Regions from separate parts of the Homo sapiens genome. Here region 2 is linked to region 1. The links come from fine-mapping of genetic effects on gene expression. Tissue or cell type: monocytes after R848. Region 1 holds a variant in brackets; the other region holds the start of a gene. All regions are shown on one strand. Distances are from middle to middle.

What was found. PIP is the estimated chance that this variant, and not a neighbour inherited with it, causes the effect.
Region 2: it holds the start of IFT74, and the variant in region 1 is fine-mapped to the expression of IFT74 in monocytes after R848 (Quach 2016, PIP 0.95).

The regions. Positions count from the first base shown.
Region 1 is chr9:26,998,153-27,000,839 of GRCh38, forward strand. All of the region lies in intron 8 of IFT74 (intraflagellar transport 74), which reads left to right. It overlaps LRRC19 (leucine rich repeat containing 19), which reads right to left. Exons shown (of 5, transcript NM_022901.3): 2 at 1,462-1,551; 3 at 1-89. The coding sequence starts at 1,542. Among named protein-coding and RNA genes, the nearest start is that of LRRC19, 6.2 kb to the right of the region's middle. The variant C/CT (reference allele first, on the strand shown) is at 1,618.
Region 2 is chr9:26,955,069-26,957,755 of GRCh38, forward strand. IFT74 (intraflagellar transport 74) reads left to right here and starts at 1,344. Exons shown (of 20, transcript NM_025103.4): 1 at 1,344-1,448. It overlaps IFT74-AS1 (IFT74 antisense RNA 1), which reads right to left and starts at 1,239. Exons shown (of 2, transcript NR_121605.1): 1 at 1,059-1,239; 2 at 712-947. RefSeq lists enhancers at 556-1,291, 1,292-2,026 and a silencer at 2,623-2,687.

The sequences.
Region 1 (2,687 bases):
TTATAACTGAGATCAAGTATAGTAACATCTTTCTTGATATCTGCTGGAATCAAGGTATAATTTTTTTCAGTAAAATTACATTGGACTTCCTAGAAAAACAAAAAAAAGAAAGGCATTAATCAGAAAAAAAATTAATAGAATTTCACCAAATTTCATATTTAAGCACTTAGACATTAGAAGGACGTTATTTTGGGAAAAAAACCTACTATCTAATATTTTGGTGTTACAGTAGAGCAAATCTTTTTCTTTATTGGGATGAAATACTAAAAATTAAGGATATTCTGATACATACAATTGAACAAAGAGATTCCAATTTGTCATACGGGTATTTTCCAACTGTTATTACATGATCATTACAGAAAGTAATGCTACTGGAATATTCCCATTTATATATGTGGAAATGTATGGTAAATAATAATTCTGTTAACATTTAATATTCCAGTGTGCACAATTGCTTTATAGTGAGGAAATTATTTTAAACTATATGTGTTTTTAAAATCAGCAGAGCTAACAACATTATACCTAGGGCTGTTCAATAATTAATAAATGGGCTGGGCATGGTGGCTCACGCCTGTAATCCCAGCACTTTGGGAGGCTGAGGCAGGCGGGTTACCTGAGGTCAGGAGTTCAAGACCAGCCTGTCCAACACAGTGAAACCCTGTCTCTACTGAAAATACAAAAAAAAAAAAAAGTCAGCCGGGCATGGTGGCAAGCACCTGTAATCCCAGCTACTTGGGAGGCTGAGGCAGGATAATCGCTTCAACCCAGGAGGCGGAGGTTGCAGTGAGCTGAGATCATGCCATTACACTCCAGCCTGGGCGACAGAGCGAGATTCCGTCTCAAAAGCAAGCAATCAATCAATCAGTCTGAATAAACTCTCTGGTTTAACTCTCTTAAACTCTCTGGGTTTAACAGCTCAAAGTTTGGTGTTTTAAAAGGAAATATTTATCTTTTATCAGAAATGGAGCCAGGTATTGAATTTAAAGAGCCACACAATCTGAAATTCTTTATGTGGATATAGATGGAAAGAAAGAAATAGTTCTTGTTTTTACTGAACAGTAAACTAAGAATAAATAGAACTAAGAATAGTTCTGGTTTATTACTGTTTTTGCAGTTAGATTTTTTCACCAATAATAATTCAATAGCAGTTTCTCTCATAAATATGTGCTTTTTAAAAAAAAGTTTCCTACATTTTAAACAAGATTTTACTCTTAAAACTAATTTCTGATTTTATAGTGAAAATTTTCAGATCTCTCCCTTTAATCAACTTTTAAAGAACTCAGTTTTTATAAATGAAGGCTGCTTTTGTCAAATTGGAATTTGGATATACAGAGCTAAATAAACTCTTAATTTTAGTAGGTCAGATTTTCTTTGCTTTCTTATTGCCCTTTTATATTTTACTAAATATACAGAAAATGTACCTTTGAAAATATTTTTACTATTTTGATTGTAAAAACTTACTCTTTTAGAAGACTGGATTTTGTCTGATAATAATATCATGGAGAGGGGCCAAAAGAGGATTGTGATGCCTGTGACTTTCATGTTGCAGACCTGATAGAAAAGAGAGTATTTTCATTAAGGACATTTTTATTTTTCCCTCTTTTGAATCTGTTTATT[C/CT]TTTTTTTTTTTTTTTTTTTTTGGCTGAGACAGGGTCTCACTCTGTCACACAGACCTGGTGGCATGGTCACAGCTCACTGCAGCCTTGATCTCCCAGGCTTAAGCAGTCCTCCCAACTCAGCTTCCTAAGTAGCTGAAACACAAGCATGCACTACCATGCCTGGCTAATTTTAAAAATTTTTGTAGAGATGGGGTCACCATGTGTTACTCAGCCTGGTATCAAACTCCTGGGTGCGAGCCATTTCCCCCCAGCCACTGGCGTGGCCTTGAAAAGTGCTGGGATTATAGATATGAGCCACTTACCCTGGCCTTTCAAATCTACTTTTTCTTGAAATACATAAAATGTGAAACAAGTGCATGGCCATTCACCATCCTTGCACTCTGATCTTAATAAACTAGAAAGCCCCTTTGAAGAATGAGACTGATTTCTATTTTTTCTTTTTAGAGAAAATTAATATTTTTAAGTGTGTCTCATTAGTTTCTAGATCTCATGAAAGGAGCTTTAAAGCAATTTAAGTGGTTGTAAATTTTAAAAATTTAATATAGAAGTGCACAAAAGAAATTCAGGAAAACGTATATTTATGCATGTTTAAGTATATGCTTATATTGATGGTCTTGATTTTTTCAATTTTAGGCATTATCTATTGGCATTATCTATCTATTATTCTTGACTTAAAACTGTGGGAGATGAGAATCTTTAGCACTCTTTTTCCCCCCATGGTAACTTTTAAAAATTTTATTGAGGCGTGGTAGATATACATAGTTTTGGGGTACATGTGATAAAGTAGTGCATTCATATAATTTTTAAAGATCAAATTAATGTACTTGGGATATCCAACACGTTAAATATTTGTCTTTTCTTTATAATGGAAACATTCAAATTCTCTTCTAGCTGTTTTTAAATGTACAGTAAATTAGACGAGAGGGAGAGCATCAGAAAATAGCTAATGGATGCTGGGCTTAATACCTAGGTGACGGGTTGATCTGTGCAGCAAACCACCGTGGCACATGTTTACCTATGTAACAAACCTGCATAACCTGCACATGTACCCCGGAACTTAAAAATAAAA
Region 2 (2,687 bases), 43 kb before region 1:
TCCTGCCAATTTCAACTGTTAATATCTGTCAGGGTCCTTAAGTGCAAGGAACAGAAATCATCTATAAATGATATAAAAGCTGAAAATGAATTTATTAAAGGACATTAAGCAGCTCACAGACTCTCCCAGAAGCTGAAGAAACAAGCTAGAGGTTCTCCTCCCAATAAAGCCTCTGAGTACCTAACACTGCAGCTTGCAACAACACACTGATGCTGGACACTGGTTGCTGGTGATAGAACATTGCAGTCTCGGAAACGATGTAGTTACTGCGGCTGTCACCCTTACTTCAACAGACTCTCTGAAGTCCTGCTTCTGGTTGTCATTCAAGTTTGAGTTGAGTCCACCAAATTAGATTGGAGAGTCTAGCAAGCAATAATACTCATGTCCCAGTAATAAGGAAGACTAGGAAAGCCAGTATCTGTCACTTTCAGTTCCTGTAAGGGTGTTGGGGGGCAGGGTAAGGGAGAAACTCTGCCAAAAGGATGACAAATGGCCACTGCAAATAGGGTGAGCTCAAATGAGATAATTACATGAAAATGTTTCACAAACTAAGGGAGAATTCAGCCACATAACATTATCTCATTTTGTGTTGTATTGATTTTTAACTCCTCGAAGGCAGGCAAGTTGGAAATAATGTGTAAAATAATGTTAAAATCCCAATACATATGCAATCACATTTAAGCTGTTATCAATGAAGATTGGAAGGAAACATACAGTAAAAGTTATTTTATTAGAGAAGTGGGATTTAAGGTGAAGTAGTTCTTAAATTAAAAAAAAAAAAAAAAAGGACACTTTCCATTGAATTCACAGTCTTCCCCACAAACTTGGATCCAAATTCTAATGAAAGGAAGCTTAAAGACGCAAAGCTTCTGGTGAAAGCAGGAACGGAACAGTTGGTGCCAGAATCGCATCCATACTTCATGATGCGTTGTGTACGCTATGCCGTCCTAATAGGAAGGAAAACTACCACAAATTAGGAGTTTAGAAAATTGCACAATGCTGCCTACCACTTAACTTCAAATGTAACCTGTTAACAACGTTAGCCGACGTGAGGTTACCTAGGGACATAGCAAAACTCGCTAGAGTTACTTCAAGTAAGGCACACGGAGGTTGCTCTGATTATCAAGAAAACCAAACGTTCACATAAAATGTTTGTCTTCCAGCCGCCCCGCTGTTTTCCACTTTTTCCAAAAAGCACTGAAGCGTGGTGAAGAAACAAACATATCCTCAATTCTCGCGAGAGCTCCGTGTGTAACCAAGGGCTGAGGCGGAGGATTGGTCACTCAGGATGAGGAGCCTCCGCTATCCCGCCCCCGTTGCCGGGATACGCCGCGGCGCACGGCAGTTAGTGGGTAGGCCTGAGAGCCGAGGAAAACTGAGCGTGGGCCTCAGAAAGAAGTTAAGGCACCCGCGAGCCGGGCAACTGCCCTCCTTCCGCGCCGGCGGAGGTGAGAATCCCCGGGTCCCATCTCTTCCTCCCTCCCTCCCACGTCTGTTCTCTTGCCTTGGAGATGCTGATCCGCTCCAAACAAAACAAATTCAAACTCGGTCTTAGCTAACTGTTACCGTCGGGCCTGTAGCCAGGCCAGGCATGTACCAATTCTAGTCGAGCGAAGGTTGCGAACAGACCTCCTCCAACAGCCCGACCCCTCCCCGACCCCCCGCAGGAGACCCGCCAAGCACAGAGCAGAGGGAAGGACCGCGATGGGCTGAAGGATTTTAGTCAAAGCAATACATTTCTGCCTCTTACAGTGGAAGGGACTTATTTCTGTCTGTTGATCACAGTGCGGGCAGTTAGCAACTTTCCACTTATTCACCTGTGTGAGAATGGTTGGCTTAGGGAGGATAACGATAGTAATAATAATTAGAAGCAGATGTTTTAAATGTAATACTTATCGTCTTCACAACAGCCCTGCAAGGTAGATGTCACCCTTCTGTTTTACAGAAGATGAAATCCTGAGGGGTTAATTAAGGTGGCAAGATTATGCAGCCGCTAACTTTGTCAGCACTAGTTTGTATCGCTAATCATTCTGGATCCAAAGGCCAGGCTGCCTCTCTGTGTGAATAATTGGAAATTGTGTGACTCTTTGATTGAATAACCCCGAAGTTAGTGGTATATTTGTTGCTAATGCCCGCCTCTTAATCCCACTGGTAATAATATAATGGTAAGCTTTTTTTCACCACAGTAAAACGGTGGCAAAGAAAATTGGGTGAAATTTTTTATGTTGTACATTTTCTCAAAGTTAGCAGGAAACCTAGAGTAATATCTTTTCCACTGGAAAGAGATGTTTATTGTACTCGTTTTCTTCTGGAAAAACCATTTTGATCATACACCGTCTTCCTTTTCAAAGAGTCATTTCATGAAATTCCTTTTTCCATTTGAAATTCTTTTGCTTTGTACATAGAGTTCAAAATGGCAAGGAATTAGAATCAGGGAGCTAGTGGGGTCAGGAAGATTGATGTGAACATATTCAAATGAGATATCTGAATGGAAATTTCAGATAAACAATTGAAAACTCAAAATTGGTGCCCAGTTGAAAGGGCAGAACTGTAGACATTGATTAGTGAGCCGTACACATAGTTGGAGTTATAAAGATGCATGACTGTAGAAAGGATAGAAGCAGTCCAAGGACTGATTACGAGTAATGCTAAGAAAAGTCAGAAAAGTAGTACTGGACATAGAGTGT